Linked DNA regions of Homo sapiens: regions 1, 2 and 3 are each linked to region 4. Evidence: fine-mapped expression QTL. A gene starts in region 4. Each other region holds a variant in brackets. All regions are shown on one strand. Distances are between the middles of the regions.

Region 1 (5,144 bases), 21 kb before region 4:
CCCTGCAGACCGGGAAACGCGGTGTGGACTCTCACTGCTTCTCCGGCTTGGAAACGGCGTTCCTGTCTTTGCCTTCTCCCTGGGGCTGGAATCCCTCCTGGACAGGCCTAAGGCATGTCATGGGTCCCCCTCCCTCCCTGCTGTAACCCCAGAGCCCCCATGGGGAACCCGCAGCTTCCATCATCCTCAGGGGCCCAGTGTCCCAGGAGGGGACTGTGGAGAGGTGTTTGTACTCCTGGGTGTGTCTGGGCTGCCACTTGCCCAGGGTCTGGGAGGTGACCTTGTGCCAGATGGGGCTGGAAGCTCCCTGAGGGTAGGGGCGGGGCTTACCCTGGTGCACCTGTGTTGCACGTGGCCTCGGATCTCGTTCCTGTCATGTCTTGGGGTCTTTTCTATTCCCAAGGTTGTCGTAGGAAGGCGTTTGCTGACAAATGAGACCTGGCTCCCTCCAGATTCTGATTCTGTCCCTCTCTTCGTGAGCCTGGATGGGTCGGGCCCCCTGAAGCCTCATGCTTTCCTCCGGAAAACGGGAGGAGGAGGCTGGCTTGCTGATCCCCAAGGTCTCTCTCAGGACAGCCTTAGTGGTTTGGGGGGTGATGCTGCAGTCAGGCCTGGGTGGAAGTCCCAACTCCATTCCAGCCTCCCTGGGTGGCACTGGGTGACCTGGCACCTCCAGACCTCCGTTTACTCATCTGTAAAATGGAGAGAACCCAGGGCCCCCTGGGTACCTGACCACAGGGAATGCAGCTCCTTGGTTGTTCAGCACCATTTCTGCCACGTAAAGAGTGTTGCTCCTCTTCCTTCAATGTCATTACTTTCAATGATGAGGAGAGTGAAGTGATTTTTTTTTTTTTTGGGTGGAGTGTTATTGAGCCATAATTAGCACACAGCAAAAGTGGCTCTTTTTACAGTTTGGTGACTTCTGACAAAGACACAATCGTGCAACGACCACTGTAGTCCAGGCATAGTACAGCGCTGTCTCCCAGAAGTCCCTCAATGCTGCCCCTTGGCCGTCAACGCCTGCCCCCACCCCAGCCCCTAGAAACCAATGACCTGGTTTTTATTCCTGTGGTTTTCCAGCATGTCATAGAAATGGAAGTGTGCATTGTGCAGCTCTCTGCCTGTGACTCTATCACTTGCCATATGCATTTGAGATTCACCCATGTTGTTGTGTGTATCTGTAGATAGTTCCTTTTTACTGTTGAATATTGTGTGACCATTGCACGAAGGCTGGGTTGTATGAATATGCCACAGCTTGCTTTCCCACATACCAGTTAATGGACATTTGAGTTGTTTCCACTTGTGGCTGCTATGAATAAAGCTGCTGCAAACATTTGTATCCGGGTCTTTGGGTGCACATATGTTTTCTTCTGGGCACATGCCAGAAGTGGGATTATCACTGGATTGTATGTTAAGTGTACATTTAACTGTATAAGAAACTGCCAAACTCTTTCCTGACATGGCTGCATCGTGTTACGTTCCCAACAGCAAGGTATGAGAGTTCCAGTTGCTCCACATCTTTGTCAACACTTGGTATTGTCAGTTTTAAATTTTAGCCACTTTAGTAAGTGTATGGTGGTTTTAATTTGCCTTTCCTGACTCTCTAATGTTGTTGAACATCTTTTCAGTTTGCCATCCAGTTGCTTATTTGCTGTCTGTTTTCATCTTTGGTGAAGTGTCAGTTCAAATTTTGTGTATTTAAAAAATAGGCGTTGTTTTTCTTATGACTGAGTTGTAAGAGTTCTTCTATGTTCTAGATGAGAGATATTTATAATGTACACAATTTGGAAATATTGTCTCGTAGCCTGTGGCTTGTCTTTTCATTTTATTAGCAGTGTCTTTTGAGGAGAAATTTCTGTTTTGATGAGGTCTAATTTATGATTTTGTTCTTTTATACTTTGTGCTTTTTGAGTCCTACCTAAGAATTCATGCCTGTCTCAAAGTTGCAGAACTTCTGCTCTGTTTTCTTCCAGGCTTGTAGTTGTAGGTTTTACATTTAGGTCTGTGACCCTTTGGTGTGAATTCACTTTTGTCTACAGTGCCCTGCAGTGCCCACGTCCTGTGGCCACCAGCAGCTGGCCAGGCTTTCCCTGTCACAGTTGCCTTTGTCCACCTGGGCAGCTGGCTTGGCCAAGTCTTCTTTGCCACCTGTGAACAACAGATGTGAAGCTGTTGGGCCACCCTGCGGGTTTTGGTGCTGGTGTCAGCCTTTGCCCAACTGTTTGTCCTCAGAACTGCAGGGTGACTGTATTAGTTCATTTGCACATTGCTATAAGGAAATACCTGAGATTGGGTAATTTATAAAGAAAAGAGGTTTAACTTGCTCACCATTCCACAGGCTGTACAGGAAGCATGGCTGGGGAGGCCTCAGGAAACTTACAATCATGGCAGAAGGCGAAGGGGAAGCAGACATGTCTTACATGGCTGGAGAAAGGGGAAGAGAAAACAGAGGGAAGAGCCACACACTTTTAAACAACTGGATCTCACTCATAGTGAGAACTCACTCACTATGACCAGAAAAGCAAGGAGGAAATCCACCCCCATGACCCAGTCACCTCCCACCAGGCCTTTCTTTTTCTTTTTCTTT[CTTTTTTTTTTTTTTT/C]TTTTTTTTTTGAGACAGAGTTTCGCTCTGTTGCCCAGGCTGGAGTGCAGTGGTGCAATCTTGGCTCACTGCAACCTCCGCCTCCTGGGTTCAAGTGATTCTCCTGCCTTAGCCTCTTGAGTAGCTGTGACTACAGGCACGTGCCACCACACCTGGCTAATTTTTTGTACTTTTAGTAGGGATGGGGTTTTGCTGTGTTAGCCAGGATGGCCTCGATCTTCTGACCTCCTGATCTGCCCACCTCAGCCTCCCAAAGTGCTGGGGTTACAGGTGTGAGCCACCACGCCTGGCCTCACCAGGCCTTTCTTTCAGCACTGGGAATTATAATTCAACATGAGATTTGGATGGGAATACAGAGCCAAACCATATCAGTGACCTTGTCTAGGGGACCCCAAGGCTGGATCCTGCCCACTGCTTAGAAAATGCAGTTGCTGGATGAGCCACCACTGCTGTCCTTTCCAGCCCCGGGCAGCTGCTGCTTGCCTGTGACCCAGGAGTTCTCCTCCTCCTCTCTGTCCAGCCTGGAGGCACCTTCCCTATCTGTGTGTGGGCTGAGCCACCCAGCCCAAACACAAACATTTTTATCAGACTCTACCCACTCTCCTCACCCGCCAGCAGGTTCCTGGCCCCATTTCTCAGGGTGGGGGGAGTGAGTTATTTGTCTAAGGTGGAACAGTGTGAGTGGCAGAACTGGGAATCGATCCCTCGATGCCATGTAACTTTCCCAGGTCAGGTCTCACCACGTCAGGCCGCCTAAATCTGCATCCACGCGGGAACCTGGGTGTGATTTAACCAATGTCATTGGCAGGAGCTTATTTCAGGGTGAGGGTGCTGCCGGTCCCCCTCCTGGACAGTGGGTCTCCTCCGGGTTGCAAATTTCTTGTGTTTTGTGTCTCTTCCCTCAGTGACCCAGGAGGCTCTCACGTGGAGTCCCCAGAACAGCATCAACTCCTCACGATGCTCCTGACGGTGGTGGACAGACTCTCCATGCCCCGATGAAGTTGTGAGTCACATACATCCCCGTCCACAGCACCCGGTACTCAGTAGGTGGTCCCATAAATGTTTGTGGCACAAGTGAATGAACTTGGAACCATCCATCTAGTGGAAATTGTAAATTATAACAAAACCCAATGGACCGTGAAAGCCAGGGTCAAGGCTGGGGCCTGCTGAGGCCCTGTCATCGAGGGAGTTTTTGTGCTGGTAAAGATGATGACTGCCCTGGTGCAGGGCCCGTGTAGCCCAACATGTCTAGTCCGTGGCGGGCTCTTACTGGGGATGAGGGGCCTCCAGGAGGAGCAGGCCTGGGCACAGACTTCTGACCTGGGCACAGTTGGGAAGGGTGACAAGGGGTCAGAGCAGGCTCTTGGCCTCAGGTCAAAGGACAGGAGTCCTCCTGACTCTGCTGTGTCTGAAGCCCACAGTGAATGCAATGCAGAAAAAGCAGTGCTTGACCCTTTGTTTTCTCCGGGGTTAGGATCCCTGATATGATTGGGCTGTGTCCCCACCCAAATCTTGCCTTGAATTGTAATGATCCCCACATGTCAGGAGTGGGGCCAGGTGGAGATCATTGAATCACGGGGGTGGTTTCCCCTGTACTGTTCTTGTGGTAGTGAATAAGTCTCATGAGATCTGATGGTTTTATAAAGGGGAGTTCCCCGGCACATGCTCTCTCTTGCCTGCCCCCATGGAAGATGTGTCTTGCTTCTCCTTTGCCTTCTGCCATGATTGTGAGGCCTCCCTGGCCATGTGCAACTGTGAGTCAATTAAACTTCTTTCCTTTAAAAATTACCCAGTCCCAGGTATGTCTTTATTAGCAGCATGAGAACAAACTAATGTGATCTCACAGAGAGCAGCGCTGGTGGTCAGAAGGAAGCTTCTGTGTTTGAGGAGGGACACTCAGGTCCCACCCCAAGCCCATGCCGTGACCTGGGGCTGCAGTTATTTTGATTCCCATTATGTGGGGAACCAAGACCCAGAGAGGGAGGACACTTGCCTGGGACTGCCCAACTTTGGAAGGAAGATCCTGCCCCTCAGTTGGGGAGGCCTGGATGGCACTGGCGGCCGGGGAGGTGCGGCAGGAGCGAGGACTGATGGGTGAGTGCAGGCTGCATGCAGCCTTGCTGGGACCTTGTGGGAGGGGAGACCCTGAGTCCTGATGGGAGTTCGAGAAACCCAGGACCAGCAGAGGTGAGGAACAGGCCTGGCCTGCTTTCCTCCTGTCCGTGAGCTGGCCGTGGGTTCCACCGACACGGCCCTGCCCTGGGACCTTGGTGGACAGGCAGAGAGGCTGTGTATACATCAATGGCCTGGGTTCCTGCAGGGCTCAGGGTCCCCTGGTCTCAGCAAGGGCCTCAAGAATGGCTGGAGAAGGGAACACACCTTTGTCAGGGACTGTCCAGCTGCCAGGCTTGGTGCTGCAGCCTCTCCACCTGCAGCCTCACCAATCCCTCCAAGCTGGGGTTTCTCCACTGTGGTGGCACTATCCACATTTTGGACAGGGTAATTCTTTGTGGAGGCTGTCCTGTATGTTGTAGGATGTTCA
Region 2 (5,144 bases), 42 kb after region 4:
GGTGATGATGATGATGATGGTCATGATGATGATGATGATGGTGATGGTGATGGTGATGATGGTAGTGGTGGCAGTGGTGATGATGATGGTGATACTGGTGATGGTGATGGTGGTGATGGTGATGATGATGGTGGTGGCCAGTGGTGATGATGATGGTGATACTGGTGATGGTGATGGTGGTGATGGTGATGATGATTATGGTAGGCGGCAGTGGTGGTGATGACAGTGATACTGGTGATGGTGATGATGGTGATGATGATGGTGATACTGGTGATGGTGATGGTGATGGTGATGATGATGATGATGATGGTGGTGGCAGTGGTGGTGATGATGGCGATACTGCTCATGATGATGATGGTGATGATGATCCGTGATGGTGATGATGATGCTATCGGCAGTCGTGATGATGATGGTGATGGTGATGGTGGTGATGGTGATGATGGTGATGATGATGATGGTGATGGTGGTGATGGTGATGATGGTGGTGGCAGTGGTGATGATGATGGTGATGATGATGATGATGGGGTAGTGGTGGTGGTAGTGATTGTGATGACGATGGTGATGATGATGATATGGCAATAGTGGTGATGGTGATGGTGGTGATAATGATGAATAAATCGTCATCATTTAGCACTTGTTATATGCTTAGATCTGTCCCAGCCATGGGGATACCACAATGAACAAGACAAGTATGGTTCCTGCTCTCCTGAGAATCAGTACTACTGATGGCAATAGCCAGTGGGTAAGTTAACCGACCCATGAGCAAAGTAACATTTCAGAGGGAGGAGCTGGAGAGTTGTGTGAAGTGTGGGGCAGCCCAGTAGGCTCCTTGGAGGAGGTGACATGTGGATGAAGAGACGGGGGGAGCCACCATCATGAGGGGCAGAGAATTTATATTGGCTCAGATAACTAGGACATCTGGGGTTGCATCTAGCATTGGGAACAGGCGTTAAAGATGCCCTCTCGCTCCCCCTCTCTCCTCTCTGCCTCTCCTGACTACCTTTTGACTTCCATGGTACCCCGAATCAATGCCACTCTTACGGCTTCCAAGATCCGTTGTCCCGGGCTAGTTGTGTCCCCTCCCTGGAACTCAGTGGTCCCATCTGGAAAGTGTGATGGGGAACGCTAGCCAGACACCCCTGTGGTCCCTTCCATCTCTGGGGTCCCGAGTGCCTGGCCCTGTGCTGGCGCCCTTGTTGGGCCATGGAGTAACTGACAGTAAGCAGTGGGCATGAGGAGCACTTCCTGCTTCAGGGCCTGCGGGAGGGTGAACAGTTCACTTCACAGTAGGTCTCTGTGGCTTACCTGGGATGGAGCTGGCTCCAGGAGCAATTTCCCCTGGATGAAACAATCTTTGGAATCCACCGTATATCACTCGCCATGACGTCTTCTGTTTAAACAGCGGCAGCCGGCAGAGGGTGAGCGAGGAGGCCGTGCTGGGAGGAGGGCCCATGTCCCAGCCCCCAACCCCGGCCCCGGTGGAAGGCCCCGCTATGGGGGAAAGCAGGCATATGGAACCCATTTGGGAAATTCTTTCTGCATAAACCACTTTTTCCAGGTAAGACACATGCCCATATTGACTGGGAAAGATGCAATACCTCTTACACTTTGCCGGCTACATTTTTATGGACCTTAATTAAACCCACGGTCTGCCGGGTTGGGAAATTGGACACTCTTTGTGCGGCGCCTTCTTAAGAAGTACTGTTGGCCCAGGGGAGGCCAATTATAACCTCGCGTCCTCCCCACCTCCCAGGACCTCACAGACCCTCCAAGCGCTTGGAAAATGTGCGCTCGACAGAGGGCCTTTGATTCTGCTTGCCTGGACAGCGTTAGGCCTGTTTCCAGGCCTGAGGCAAGTGGTGGTCAGGGTCCCAGGCGGCCGGCGGAGGGGCCACAGAGACCGGAGTTTTCAAACTTCATTGAGCACCAGCGCTTTCCTTTCATGCCCAATCGCATGGAGACCTCGGATAGAAACCAGATGAGCCTGCTGGGGCTGAAGGGGGAGGTTGGTGGGGGGTGCACGTGGCCCCTTGCTCACCCCCAGCTCCTGTTCGCCATGAGGTGACAGCGAGGACAGCCGCCTGGGTGTTCAGTGAGTTGTTAACGCCTGGATGGTTGTGCTCGTTATCCTGTTTAACAGGCACAGGCCAAGTGAGGTAGGTGCTGTTACCATTGCCATTTCACACCTGAGGGAACCTAGGCGCAGAGCAGCAGAGGGACGGGCCCAGGGTGGCCCGGCCGGAGCAGGAGGAGTGGTGGGGTTTGGGTCCTGGAAGCCCGTGTGCGTGGCCGCCTCTCCAGAAGGCTGCTGGGGAGCTACTGATTGGGCCCAAGCCTCTCTTTTGACGGTGCTCCGGGCTCAGTGCTGTGCCTTCCACTCCCGGTGGCCCCTGCCTGTGCGTGATCTCCACAGCACAGCCCCCTTCTTGTGTCGGGTAGTGGCCTAGGCCCCTCCTATGCTTGGGTTCATGGATCCAGCAGGC[C/G]GGGGGGGTCCTCTCACCGCTGGAGGGGCTACTCTGCCAGCCTCTCTGGTTGGGTGGAACCTGCCCTTGACTAGCATACATGGTCCGGGGCACCCCAGGACTTTTCAAGGATGCCTTTGGTTGGAGGAGAAGGTGTCTTTGCTTTGGTCCTTTTTGTGCTCTGGGCTTCCACGAATATTTCATTTTTAGGGAAGAGATTCGTTAATCAAGAAAAGTGTCCCCTGGATGAGCTTTTCCTGGGATTGGCTCTTCCTGGGATGCTCAGGTCATGGCCCCAGAAACCCCAACCTAGCCAAGGGAGCATGTTAGGAAGCCAGGCCAATGGAGGGATAATTTACATGCGGTAACATCCATCCTTTCAAGGTGTATGCTTTGGTGAATTTTGACAAATGCAAGTAGTCACAGACACCCTCGTAATCAAGATACGGAAGATTTCTATCACCTCCAAAGCTCCCTCGTGCGTCCTCCCACCCCAGCCCCCCAGTGGTGGATCCGTTTTTGGTCCTCATAGCTCTGCCTTTTCTAGAATCGCATCAATAGACCCATGCAGTTGGCAGTCTCTTCAGTGTGGCTTCTTTCACTTTGTATTATGCCTTTAACATCCAGCCATAGTTACAGGGACATCGCTGGCACCTCGCAGGCTGGGTGGCCTCAGGGAAGATGGAGCTGGGCTCACCCCGGGTACCCTGGAGCAGTCGAGCTCTCTGGCAGGTAGAGCAGGGTGGGTCCAGAAGCTTCTGCTAGTCTTTGTTTCCTCATTAACTCAGGAATGTTAATCAGTGCTGACTTCTTGGGGTTGATGGGAAATGATGGGCCATTTGGATACTTGCTCAGGGACTGTGCACAGTGGCTCATGCCTGTGATCCCAAGGTTTTGGGAGGCTGAGGTGAGAGAAGCACTTGAGGCCAAGAATTTGAGACCAGCCTGGGCAACATAGTGAGACCCCATCACTAGATATGTGCTCCTGACCTCATAGCACAGAAACCCAACCAGAAAGGATTCAATAAGTCTGGATGAGGATGGCTCCAGGGCAGCTTCATCCAAGCACTCATGACATCAGTGATCTGGGTGACTCCTCAGCTGCAAGATGGTGGCAGCTTCTTCTAGCATCACGTCCCTACGGGACAACATCCAAGTGGGAAGGGGCACTTCCCTGTGGTGTTCCCCTCTGTTAGCAAGAAACCCTTTTCCGGGAGCAGCCCCCAGTTTCAGCAGTCTTCCCTGTGCCTCACTGGTCAGGGTGTGTCCCATGCGTCATGTCTACACCAATCTCCAGCAACAGACGGGAGCTGCCAGGAGAGGGTGAAGCCTGAGCAGCCTTTGCTCTGGGCTGGAGAGGGGCTGGTGAAGCACAGAGCAGATAATGCCTGGATAAGACGGGGGCTCTCCGGGCAAGGGAAGGAGGACGTGCCCAGAGGTGGGGAACTGGCCGTCTGCTAGATGCTGTGTGTGAGTCTGATTGCAAGGAGGTTCTCTGTCTACAAAAGACCAGAACAGGAGGGAGCCATTAGGGAAGAAGGCCACCAACATGGCCGGCTGACTGTGGTTGGCCTTCCTCAGGGCTGAGGCTTAGATAGGGTGAGCCTATCTTGTAGATGTTCCTCAAAGGAGAGGACACAAATGAGCAATTTGTGACCTTTGTGTGCTTGCTGTCCATACCTTCATCCTTCCATCTCTCCATCTATCCATCCGTCTCTCCATCCCTTCCTAATCCATTCATCCCTTCATCCATCCCCTTCATCCATCCATCATCCATCAATCTCTCTATCCCTCCATTCATCCATCAATCTCTTCATCCTTCCATCCACCTATTATCCATCCACTTCTCCATCCATCCATTCATCTATCCTTTATTCATTTATCCATTTATCCATCCATCCATCTCTCTATCTCTTCATCCATCCATCCACTCATCTATCCATCTCTCCACCCCTCCATACATCCATTCATCAGTTGTCCTTCCATTAATTCGTCCATGTTTCCATCCCTCCAGCAGTCTCTCCATCCCTCCATCTCTCCATTCATGTATCATCCCTCCACCCATCATCCATCCATATCTCCATCCATCCACTCATTGATCCTCCATTTATTCATCCATCCACCCACCCATCCATCCATCCATCCATCCATCCATCCATCCATCTCCTATCTCTCCATGCATCCGTCTCTCATTTCTCCATCCCTCCATCTCACCATTGCTCTATCACTGCATCCTTCTATCCCTCCATGTCTCCATCCCTTCTTCCAAGTAACAACCAAGCACTTGCTCTGGGTGGGCCCTGTGCTGGGTCCTGGAGAGAAGGGGAGAAACTGGGCTCTGTCGTTCAGGACTTTGGCAAGGGCCCCTCACGGTTGGGGTGTGGAGGCGTGGTTTCCCTTGGGGCTTTCCCCATAGTGAGCATGTGATGCTTTCAGGGGAACACTGCCTTTTAATTTTTATCCCAAGATTCAAGCAGCACAGATCCTCTCTTGCTTCACAGCCCCTGTCCAATCCTGCCTTTCATTAACTAACTTTAGTAACTTTCCTCGCTGTGTTTAATTAAGATTCATACGAGCAAGACTTGAAGGAACACAAGCATCTCAGTGCGGCTGGGCCGGCCTTTAGTCTTGGGCTTTTTACCTCTTGCCCGTGGTGGTGCTGGCTGCAGAGGACCCCCTGAG
Region 3 (5,144 bases), 130 kb before region 4:
ACACGTGATCCCAGCTACTCGGGAGACTGAGGCAGGAGAATCGCTTGAACCCGGGAGGCAGAGGTTGCAGCAATGAGCCGAGATCGTGCCACTGCACTTCAGCCTGGGTGATAGAGCAAGATTCCATCTCAAAAAAAAAAAAACAACAAAAAACAAAAAAACAAAAAAACAAAAAAAAAAAGAAAAGAAAGAAAATGGTTGAACATTGGCAATTTTACATGGTAAAACCAACTGTTTCAGTCCTAGGTTCTTCATGGTGAGTTAACCACTGCCAGGGAACTCTGGGGTGGGGGTGGGGGGTCAAGCCATTCTGATTATTAATCCAGTTCTCTGTGATGTAACGACACCCTCCCTGTCTGCGTGGTGAACTGTCCCTTGGCCCCGCCACTTTGGGATTCCACCATCCTCACTGAATTCAGGAAGCCCATTTCAATGGCAGCATCTCCCACTGTCACTCCTAGCCTGCAGAGAGCAGCCACTACAAACTCTTCAAACATGCTGATGTTCCTGACCCAGTGTCTTTCTCAATGCTTGGGTGAGGGGCCCTCCTGAGGGCCTAGTTAGGGGATGAAAGAGTAGATTGCGGCTGGGCGCAGTGGCTCACGCCTGTAATCCCAGCACTTTGGGAGGCCGAGGCAGGTGGATCACCTGAGGTCAGGAGTTCAAGAGCAGCCTGACCAATATGGTGAAACCCTGTCTCTACTAAAAATTTAAAAAATTAGCCGGACGTGGTGGCAGGAGCCTGTAGTCCCAGCTACTTGGGAGGCTGAGACAGGAGAATTGCTTGAACCCAGGAGGTGGAGGTTGCAGTGGGTCGAGATTGCGCCACTGCACACCAGCCTGGGTGACAGGGCTAGACTCCATCTCAAAAAAAAAAAAAAAAAAAAACAACAGAGTAGACTGTACATGATACATTCACTCCAGTATTCCTCTCCTTAACTCTGGGTTTTTTTTTTTCTGTTTTGGTTTTGTTTGTTTGTTTGTTTTTCGAGACAGGGTCTCTCTCTGTCATCCAGGCTGGAGTGCAGTGGTGTGATCACAGCTCACTGCAGCCTCATCCTCCTGGGCTCAGGCCTCCTGAGTAGCTGGGACCACAGGTGCGCACCACCACACCTGGCTAATTTGTTCCATTTTTTTGTAGAGATGAGGCTTCACCTTGTTGCCCAGGCTGGTCTCAAACTCCTGTGCTCAAGTGATCCATCTGTCTTGGCCTCCCAAGTGCTGGGATTCTGGGTGTGAGCCACTGTGCTTGGCCCTACTCTTTGGACACCTTTCTCTACTGCAGTGGCTCTCAATCAGGGGAGATTTTGCCCCCCATGGGGACACTTAGCAATGTCCAGAGGCATCTTTGGTTGTTATGGCTGGGAGGGGTACGTTTCTAGCATTGAGTGGGCAAGGGATACTGCTAAGGTCCCCACAACCTCCCCCAACAGCAAAGAGCCATCTGGCCTCAAATATCAATAGTGCTGAAGTAGAAAAACTCTGCTCCACGGAATTCCAAAGAAGTCCTGGAATCCCATCTTCATTTAAAATGGGTCACCACTGGGCTGGGTGCAGTGGCTCATGCCTGTAATCCTAGCACTTTGGGAATGGAGGTGGGTGGATCACTTGAGCTCAGAAGTTTGAGAACAGCCTGGCCAACATAGTGAAACCTCATCTCTACTAAAAATACAAAAATTAGCCAGGCGTGGTGGCAGGCACCTGTAGTCCCAGCTACTTGGGAGGCTGAGGCAGAAGAATTGCTGGAACCCGGGAGATGGAGGTTGCAGTGAGCTGAGATTGTGCCACTGCACTCCAACCTGGGTGACAGAGCAAGACTCCATCTCAAAAAAAAAAACAAAAAACAAAACAAGGCCTGGCATGGTGGCTCATGCCTGTAATCCCAGCACTTGGGAGGCCGAGGCAGGTGGATCACTTGAGGTCAGGAGGTCGAGACCAGCCTGGCCAACTGGGTGAAGCCCTGCCTCTACTGAAAATACAAAAATTAGCTGGGCATGGTGGCGGGTGCCTGTAATTCTAGCTACTCAGGAGGCTGAGGCAGGAGAATCGCTTGAACCCAGGAGTAAGAGGTTGCAGTGAGCAGAGATCGTGCCATTGCACTCCAGCCTGGGCAACAAGAGTGAAACTCTGTCTCAAATAAATAAATAAATAAAAACATGGGTCACCACTGCTCCAGGTTTCAGTTGATGGAATGGGCCAACTCTGAGAGCCACTCCCAGGTGCTGAGTGGACACGTGGAGCTCAGAATCTCTGGTGAGTGCACCATATCAAAATAATTAAGCCTGACCCGGCATTACTTTCTTCCCCCACCCCGCCGGTCTGACACCCTTAGGGTTTGTTCCCCTACAGATTTCCTAGGTTTCTGCCAGTATGAACCGGAAATAGCTTGCAATTCTTTTGTTGTGTATAGTACATCTTCCTGGGTCAGATTTTGTGGCCACATTCCTGGAGCTCACCGGGATTTCGATCTAGAAGCTGGAGGTGGTAGGGGCTCTTGAGGAAGAGTCTACCCTAGGATTAGAATCTTCCCAAATGGAATCCGTTCCACCATTCAGGGATCCACTCTTTCCCCGTCAGTGCCCTGACTTTCACAGAAGAGAAACTTGCGGCCCTGAGTTCAAGTGTAGTAGTTGAACTTGATTCTATTTTGCCACCCAGGGGATCAGAGTTTGGATTTGTTTATTTTTTTGATCTCTCAACTCTGTGGCTACAAGAGATATGGACTTCTTTTCAAGCACCAGTGGAGGGTTTCTGGTACTTTAGGTCTTGAACTGGATATTTAAAACCCTGAGCTCCTATTTTTTTCCCCCAGCAAATTCTCCGGTGC[A/G]ATAGGAGGAGGCCACCAACTTCACAGGATGCAAACTCTGTATTTCACCATCGCGTTCTGTTGCAACAGCTACCGTTGCCTGTTTGCCTTCTGCAGGCACTTGACCCCATGTGATTGCTGATGAGGACTGCAGCAAGCTTCCCACACCTTCCCCAGCCCCACCCTCCAGCTCCTCCTGCATTTATGGAAGCACTGATTTCTATAGTAAGCCCCTTTTTCTCTGGAATGCATGGAGTGGCCCTGCTTTCCTCTCCAAACTCAGATGGATATGGTTTTTAATTTTTTAGTTTAAAAAAATTTCTTTTTGGCCAGGCACGGTGGCTCACGCCTGTAATCCCAGCACTTTGGGAGGCCGAGGCGGGCAGATCACAAGGTCAGGAGATCGAGACCATCCTGGCTAATACAGTGAAACCCCATCTCTACTAAAAATACAAAAAATTAGCCGGGCGCAGTGGCGGGCACCTGTAGTCCCAGCTACTCGGGAGGCTGAGGCAGGAGAATGGCGTGAACCTGGGAGGCGGAGATTGCAGCGAGCCCAGATAGCACCACTGCAGTCCGGCCTGGGTGAAAGAGCAAGACTCCATCTCAAGAAAAAAAAAAAAAAAATTCTTTTTGAGACAGGATCTCACTCTGTCACCCAGGCTGGAGTGCAGTGCAGTGGCATGATCACGGCTCTCTGCAGCCTCAACCTCTGGGCTCAAGCGATCCTCCCATCTCAGCCTCCCGAGTAGCTGGGACCACAGGCACGCACAACACCCGGCTAATTTGTTGTGTTTTTTGTAGAGATAGGTTTTTGCAGTGTTGGCCAGGTTGGGTCACAAACTCCTGGTTTCAAGTGATCTGCCTGCTTCACCCTTTCAAAGTGCTGGGATTACAGGGATGAGCTACTGTGCCTGGCCAAAAAAATATTTTTTTAGAGATAGGGCCTCACTCTGTTGCCCAGGCTGACTGGAGTGGCGTGATTGTAGCTCATTGCAGCCTCCAACTCCTGGGCTCAGATGATCCTCCCACCTCAGCCTCCCGAGTAGCTGGGACTACAGGCAGGCCTATGCTACCACAATTGGCTATTTTTATGATTTCTTTTTTTTTTTTTTTTCTGGTAGAGACAGGGTCTCGCTATGTTGCCCAGGTTGGTCTTGAGCTCCTGGCCTTAAGCAACCCTCCTCCCTCTGTTTCCTAAAGTGCTGGGATTACAGGTGTGAGCCACTGCACCCAGCCTACTATACGTCTTTTGAAAACCTCTCTAGGCTGGGTGAGGTGGCTCATGCCTGTAATCCCAGCACTTTGGGAGGCTGAGATGGGCAGATCACAAGGTCAAGAGATCGAGACCATCCTGGTCAACATGGTGAAAGCCAGCCTCTACTAAAAATACAAAAATTAGCCAGGCGTGGTGGCACATGCCTGTAATCCCAGCTACTCAGGAGGCTGAGGCAGGAGAATTGCTTGAACCTGGGAGGCAGAGATTGCAGTGAGCAGAGATCGTGCCGAGATCGCGCCATTGCACTCCAGCCTGGAGACAGAGCGAGACTCCATCTCAAAGAAAAAAAAAAAAGAAAACCCGTCTCATTGTTAAACTCTTACCAGGAACCTTATAGAGAAGGGGATTCAAGGACTTGCAGCCTTAGAGGGATGTGCTGGCGGGGCCACGTTACTCTTTCTTGGTTTAGTGTAGATTTTGTTGTTGAGAACCTTTGTGTTTTTATTCTTGTGGCAACCCTCCCCCAATACCTTCATATGATACCTTTAATCCCCTCTTTTTTGGCAGGGGGGATTGTCGATTGGTTTTCTTTTGTTGATTGGTGTTCTTTACTCAGTTTAAAAATTTTTTATTTTATTTTATTATTTCAGAAAAATTTTCTTGAATTATAATTATTATTTGTTCTGCTTCATTGCTTTGGTTTTCTTCTGGGATTCCTATTGTATGTATCTTGAATCTTATTTGCCTATTTTCTATAGCTATAATTTTCTCTAGACTTTTTTTTTTTTTGGCTTCAACATTTCTTTTTGGTTTAAAATTTTTTCTGCTTTCTTTCTTTCTTTCTTCTTTCTTCCCCCTTCCCTCCCTTTCTTCCTCCCTCCCTCCTTTCTTTTTTTCTCTCTCTCTTTCTTCCCCTCCCTCCCTCCCTCTCGTCCTTCCTTCCTTCCTTCCTTCTTTCCTTCCTTCCCTTCTTTCTAGATAAGAGTCTTGTTTTGCGCAGGTTGGACTTGAACTCCTGGGCTCAAGCGATCCTCCCTCCTCAGTCCCCGAGTAGTTGTGACCGCAGACATGAGCCTCAACAGCCTGCTTTTCCTAGTCTGTTTCTCTTAAGGCTTTATT
Region 4 (5,144 bases):
TTGGAATTTCATTCTGTTCCTGACAGCGTCCTTGACTAGCTGTTTGATCACCCCGAGCAAAGTTACATACCAGCTTTCAACCGTTGGGAGGGCAGCGGCGTCCTTTTTCTCAAGTGCCTTCTCCTGGGTCGGGCTTTATGCCTGCAGCAGGGCGTTTCAAACGGCTGAGGCCATCCCTTGTTAGGGAGAGAAACCTCCCGGGCAGGGGTCTCCCTCAATGAGGAAGCCCTCCACTTCCCCCCACTCGTCCCACTGTTCGTGATTTTAATCTGCTTTTGTGGCGCAGGAAGAAAGAAAATTAATTTTCGCCCGTCTGTGTGTAGGGAGCATTTCAGTGGAAACCCGGTTTGAAATGCATGTTCTGTTGATTTCGGCAGCCTGCGCCGGCTGGGGTTTTGAGATGCAGCATTCTCAGGGGAAGAGGTGATGGGCCACAGGCCTTCGTGGGGTGGGAACTCAGGCTCCCCGTGGGCCCTGGACGGGGTCCTCATGTCCTGTGCTCCGTCTTGGCAGGAGTAAGAGTTGATGATGTTCATGCTCTCCCAACTCACCCATCTCTGCCATGGTTGCTTTTTTTTTTTTTTTTGGTTAAAGCAAGCATATTTTGCTGTTGCAAAAAGAAACAAAGAAAAAAATGATTTTCAACAGGACCCTGACATGTCTGAGAATGTCTCACTGTCAACAAGGCTGTAGGTGGTGGTTTTACAATTTTGGCGGAATCTGTTCTAAGGAAAACACGTGCTTCTTTTAATTTGGCCTCCCAGCTCCAATGCACGTGGCCGTCCTTGCTGAGAGTCTTCTGGGTGCCTGGAACTGTGCTAAGTCCTGGGGGATTCGGCGAGAGCTCGAGTTCTAGAAACACATGGAAGAGTTCAGAGGATGTTGGTGCTATGAAAATAACAAAACCAACCAACACACTGAGGCCCTGGGGGATGTGCCTGGTGGTCCCTGGGGGAGGGCGTTCAGTATTATTCCTGGGTCCTGCATTTGAGTCAGCCAAGTCCAGCTCATCTCGATGACATTTGGGCGGGGATTTCCCCTGCAAAGCACTCTTATCCCCAGCCTTGCTTGCAGAAGCTGGGAAGGGATTATCATCCCCTCACCGTTTTTTTTTTTTTTTTTTTTTTTTGAGATAAGGTGTTGCCCAGGCTGGAGTACAGTAGCTTGATCATGGCTCACTGCAACCTCTGCCTCCCAGGTTCAAGTGATCCTCCTGCCTCAGCCTCCTAGCTAGGTGGGACAACGAGTGTGCACCACCACATCCAGCTAATTTTTGTATTTTTTTTTTTTTTGTAGAGATGGGGTTTTGTCATGTTGCCCAGGTTGGCCTCGAACTCCTGAACCTTCTCACGTCGGCCTCCCAAAGTGCTAGGATTATTTTCCCCTTTTATTGAGGGGAGGAAACTGAGGCCCAGTGATGCTTCAGTGGAGACCAGCTTGCCTGGGGCTCACAGGAAGCTGTTCACAAGGTTCTTGGGGCTCTGTCCCAGGCTGTCACCTGTACTGAGGGCTGGTCCTGGGCGGGGACCAGGCTTTGGGGGCAAGAACTTGCACCTCCTTGTTACTTCCACTCCAGGCCTTCCCCACGGAGCTCACCTGTGGAGAGGTTTCCTCTGCCAAGCATTTCATCAGGAAACAGTGAGTGAGGGTGCGTCACTCACTGCTCTGTCAGCGTTGAACATTTGGGTGCAGGAAGATGCCTTGGCTCTTTGAGGTCCCGATGGCAACTTGCATCCCCAGATCCATCCTCAGAGGCCCGGGGCTGGGAGCATCCCCGGATCCATCCTCAGAGGCCCGGGGCTGGGAGCATCCCCGGATCCATCCTCAGAGGCCCGGGGCTGGGAGCCACCACCGCCCAGCTCCATGCGTTCCCATTGGCGGGGTCTGGGTCTGCGCTGATGAGGCGCTCGTCACTCTTATCCTGGATTATATTCACAGGCGGGTAACTCGGGGGGTGGTGTGATGGGGAGACACAGGAGGGAGGAGCAGGGAGGGCAAGATGAAGGGGAGCAGTCTGGGAAGGGGGCGACTCCAGGCACAGCCGCACGTCCCTGGGATTTTCAGGGGGAGCTCTGGGGGTTCAGAGTGGCCTCTAGTTTGTCCTGGTCCAAAGCAGGGAAGCTGGGCTACGTCCTGCCCAGGTCAGCCTTAGGTTAAGGGCTGCCTGGGGGAGGGAACTTCCTGGGCCTTCGGGTCTCTGTGCACTGGGGTGGCTCCTGTGGCCCAGAATGCCCTGGAGAAGGGTCCTACTGGAAGCGAAGGTGCAGGGCAGCAGGGCCTGAGGCGCAGGAGCTGGTGGAGGCTCCCAGCACAGGTCGCCGCCCCAGTCACATCACTGCTGATGGTGGGGGGACTTGGGGAGTTTCCCCCGAGAATGGGAGGTCTCACAGTCCCCGTGCTGCAATGCTGTCGGTGCACTGTGTCTGCAACGTGCTCATGGTCACTTGCTTTTTCTCTGTGGCCCCGGCCGCTTTATCCAGCAAGTAGCCCCCTCTCCTCTCCGGAGAAGCCGAGCCTGGATGCCGCTGGGAGGAGGTCACTCCCTTCCTGTCTCGAAGGGCATGCCGTCCTCGTCCTTGCTGACTCCCAGAGGCCCAGGGACGTCTGAGGGGGAGGGGCCGGGCCTCCTTGACCCCTGCGTGTGGACACCATGTGACTGGGGTGTGGTTGACTCTCTGTGTCCGATTGGGTGCTTGGCAAACACAGAGAGTTTTGTCCAAGGCCACCTTGGTCCCCACCTGTCCAGGTTGGGAGGTGCCCTGCCTGGTGTGGCCTGAGCTGAGCGCCTCTGGCCGGAGCAGACGGCCCCGGCTCCCCCAGGACATGTCACCTGGAGAGGTGGCCCTTTCAGGTAAGGGACATGCCCATTGGCAGCAGCCTCTGCCCCCTCCCTGCATACACAGCTGCTCCCATCTGGGGACCCTCACCCCACGTGCGGATGGGCTTCCCCAGGAAGTCGGCAGGACTTTCCCTGGCCTTCTGGAAGTCCCCATCAAGCAAATGCTCTATCGATGACTTACTCTATGACGGGGTCCAGAGAGCTAACTCCCCACCCACGTTCGAAGTGATCTTCAAACCGCTGCGCGTGGAAAACAAGCCCAGAGCTCAACGTTCCCTAAGTGAGTGGCCTTTGACAGCAGTGCCAGGCAGCCCAGTGGGTGCAGGGCACACCACAGATGGAGGAAGGGCCAGGCATGCTTCCCAGACAGCCTCTGCCAGTCCAGGCAGGGGCTCCAGGGTGGCTGCGGGAAGGCAGCTTAGGCGGTGCCCGGCCCAAGGTGAGTTGGCATCATGCTCCACTTCCCGTTTGAACGTGTGGTCCCGTTTGAACCTTCTGGAAAGGCTTGGCAGGGAGGACACTCATTTTGTAGACTGGGAAGGAACTGAAGAGCTGGCTTCCGGCGACCAGCGATGGGCCCCAGATCCCTGTGGCCAGGAAGGCCCCCATTGCTGTTCTCTGTAGCTCAGGCTGGACATTTGCTGGTGAGAACTGGCCGGACTCCCAGGACCCAGCCGCCAGAGACCTCTGTTCCTCACGCTCAGCCCCCTAGCTCCAACTGGGGCCCCTTTGCTTTACAGGATGTAGGCTTGGAGTTAGAGGGGGCAGTTCTGGCGGTTTATCTCTCACTCACAGAAACTCGGCTGTGAGAGGCCAGAGCTGGACTTGGGGGGCAGAGCCTGTAGAGGTCAATGTGTCCTTATTGGGTGTGCACACGTGTGAGTCTGTGTGCACACACATGTATACATGTGTATGCGTGTGTGTGTGTGTGTGTGCGCGCGTGTGGCAGTCAGAGAAGGCTGGGCAGACACTGTTATTTCAGAAAAGATGTGGAGGCCTTTCTGAAGGCATCCACTGAGAGGCAGGGGCCAGGATCTCTGTGCCCAGGCGCTGGGCGTGGCCCCTGAGAAGTGCTCTCTCCCCTAATCCTTCAAAGCAGGAGGTATTTGCTTCACTTTCTAAGGCAGGATCTGCGGCTCTGAGAGGTTGCACAACTTGCCCGAGGTCACTCAGCTAGTAGAAGGCAGGACTGGCCTCCGGTCCAGGGTGACTGTGAGGATGTCAGGGGACCCTGCAGGCCTGTGCGCCCCAGCTTAGGGCTACAGGTCCCACCTAAGGCTTCTTGATGGAGGTTGGAGGGGCGAGCTGGAGGGAGGTGCTGCTGGGGGTCCACCGGTCCCCTTCCTGGGGGATGAAGCCGGTTTCCCGCGCTGACCCCCTTGCCATCAGAGGCCCAGAGCGCGGTCCTTGTGCTGCTGAGCTGTGTTTGGGGCCGCCTGTGGGCTGTGGCCGCCTGTCCTCATCTTCTCCCCTTTTCTCCTTGGCTTTTCATCCTCAGGCTCCGTCCTTCTTCCCCGTGGTGGCCCCAGCCTCCCTGCCAAGCTTCCCGGCCCCCGCCCCATCCCGGGCCTGCTGCTGCGGAGACCGTGGGCCGGCGCTGGACGGCGCGGCCTCCAGAAGTGATAGCTAATTGGGGAGAGAAAGGGCCCAATTGTCTGGCGGGGCCGGAAGAGCCGCGTGGGCTGCTGAAAGCGTCGGGAGGAGGTGGCCGCTTCGCCCAGCAGCTGCCGCCGGGGATGTTTGCAGATTACGTCAGCGCTGGCGAGCAGGGGGCGCGGGGACAGCGAGGGGGGCGGGCTCCCGGCGGCCTCCCGCCCCCCAGGCCCCTGGACAATGCTGTCATTGTCAGCACGGAGAGTGGTTAATTCTGGATGAATGGTACACGGGCCTCTTGACCAAGGAGGCTGCTCGTCGTCCCCAGTCTGTCCTCTCACATGCCAGGGAGGCCCCGGGCTGGAGTCTGGCGGGCAGATCTGGCCTGCTTGGTGGCACCAGAGAGAACAGGGCGGTCCCTTGGGGGCGCCGGCTGCAGAGGCCCCAGGCTGGACGGAGCTTCCTGTCCTGGGTCTGCACAGCAGCCACTTGGCAGTGCCGGGCTAGGGTGGCAGGGCCCCACTGCATCTCGGTTCCAGGGCAGAGGCTGCTGCTGCCCTTTGGGGCTGACTTCAGGCATGACCTCCTGGCCAGGTGGCAGCTTTGGCCCTGACCCGCTCCTGGCCCTGCTGGTGGTGATCCTGCTAGCACGCCTCATCCTGTGGTCCTGCCTCGGGACCTACATCGACTACAGACTGGCCCAGCGGCGGCC

What was found. PIP is the estimated chance that this variant, and not a neighbour inherited with it, causes the effect.
Region 1: its variant is the best candidate, but not a certain one, in a credible set for the expression of SMIM38 in prefrontal cortex (CommonMind, PIP 0.56).
Region 2: its variant is the best candidate, but not a certain one, in a credible set for the expression of SMIM38 in lymphoblastoid cells (GTEx, PIP 0.54).
Region 3: its variant is the best candidate, but not a certain one, in a credible set for the expression of SMIM38 in whole blood (TOPMed, PIP 0.56).

What each region holds. Positions count from the first base shown.
Region 1 is chr11:69,131,928-69,137,071 of GRCh38, forward strand. No RefSeq gene overlaps it. Among named protein-coding and RNA genes, the nearest start is that of SMIM38, 21 kb to the right of the region's middle. RefSeq lists an enhancer at 4,144-4,193. The variant CTTTTTTTTTTTTTTT/C (reference allele first, on the strand shown) is at 2,588.
Region 2 is chr11:69,194,625-69,199,768 of GRCh38, forward strand. No RefSeq gene overlaps it. Among named protein-coding and RNA genes, the nearest start is that of SMIM38, 41 kb to the left of the region's middle. RefSeq lists an enhancer at 1,580-2,204. The variant C/G (reference allele first, on the strand shown) is at 2,484.
Region 3 is chr11:69,025,279-69,030,422 of GRCh38, forward strand. No RefSeq gene overlaps it. Among named protein-coding and RNA genes, the nearest start is that of MRGPRF, 15 kb to the left of the region's middle. The variant A/G (reference allele first, on the strand shown) is at 2,828.
Region 4 is chr11:69,152,837-69,157,980 of GRCh38, forward strand. SMIM38 (small integral membrane protein 38) reads left to right here and starts at 3,099. Exons shown (of 3, transcript NM_001369201.2): 1 at 3,099-3,278; 2 at 4,338-5,144. The coding sequence starts at 5,011. All of the region lies in intron 2 of LOC338694 (a long non-coding RNA gene), which reads right to left. RefSeq lists silencers at 925-1,219, 4,465-4,824 and an enhancer at 2,653-3,580.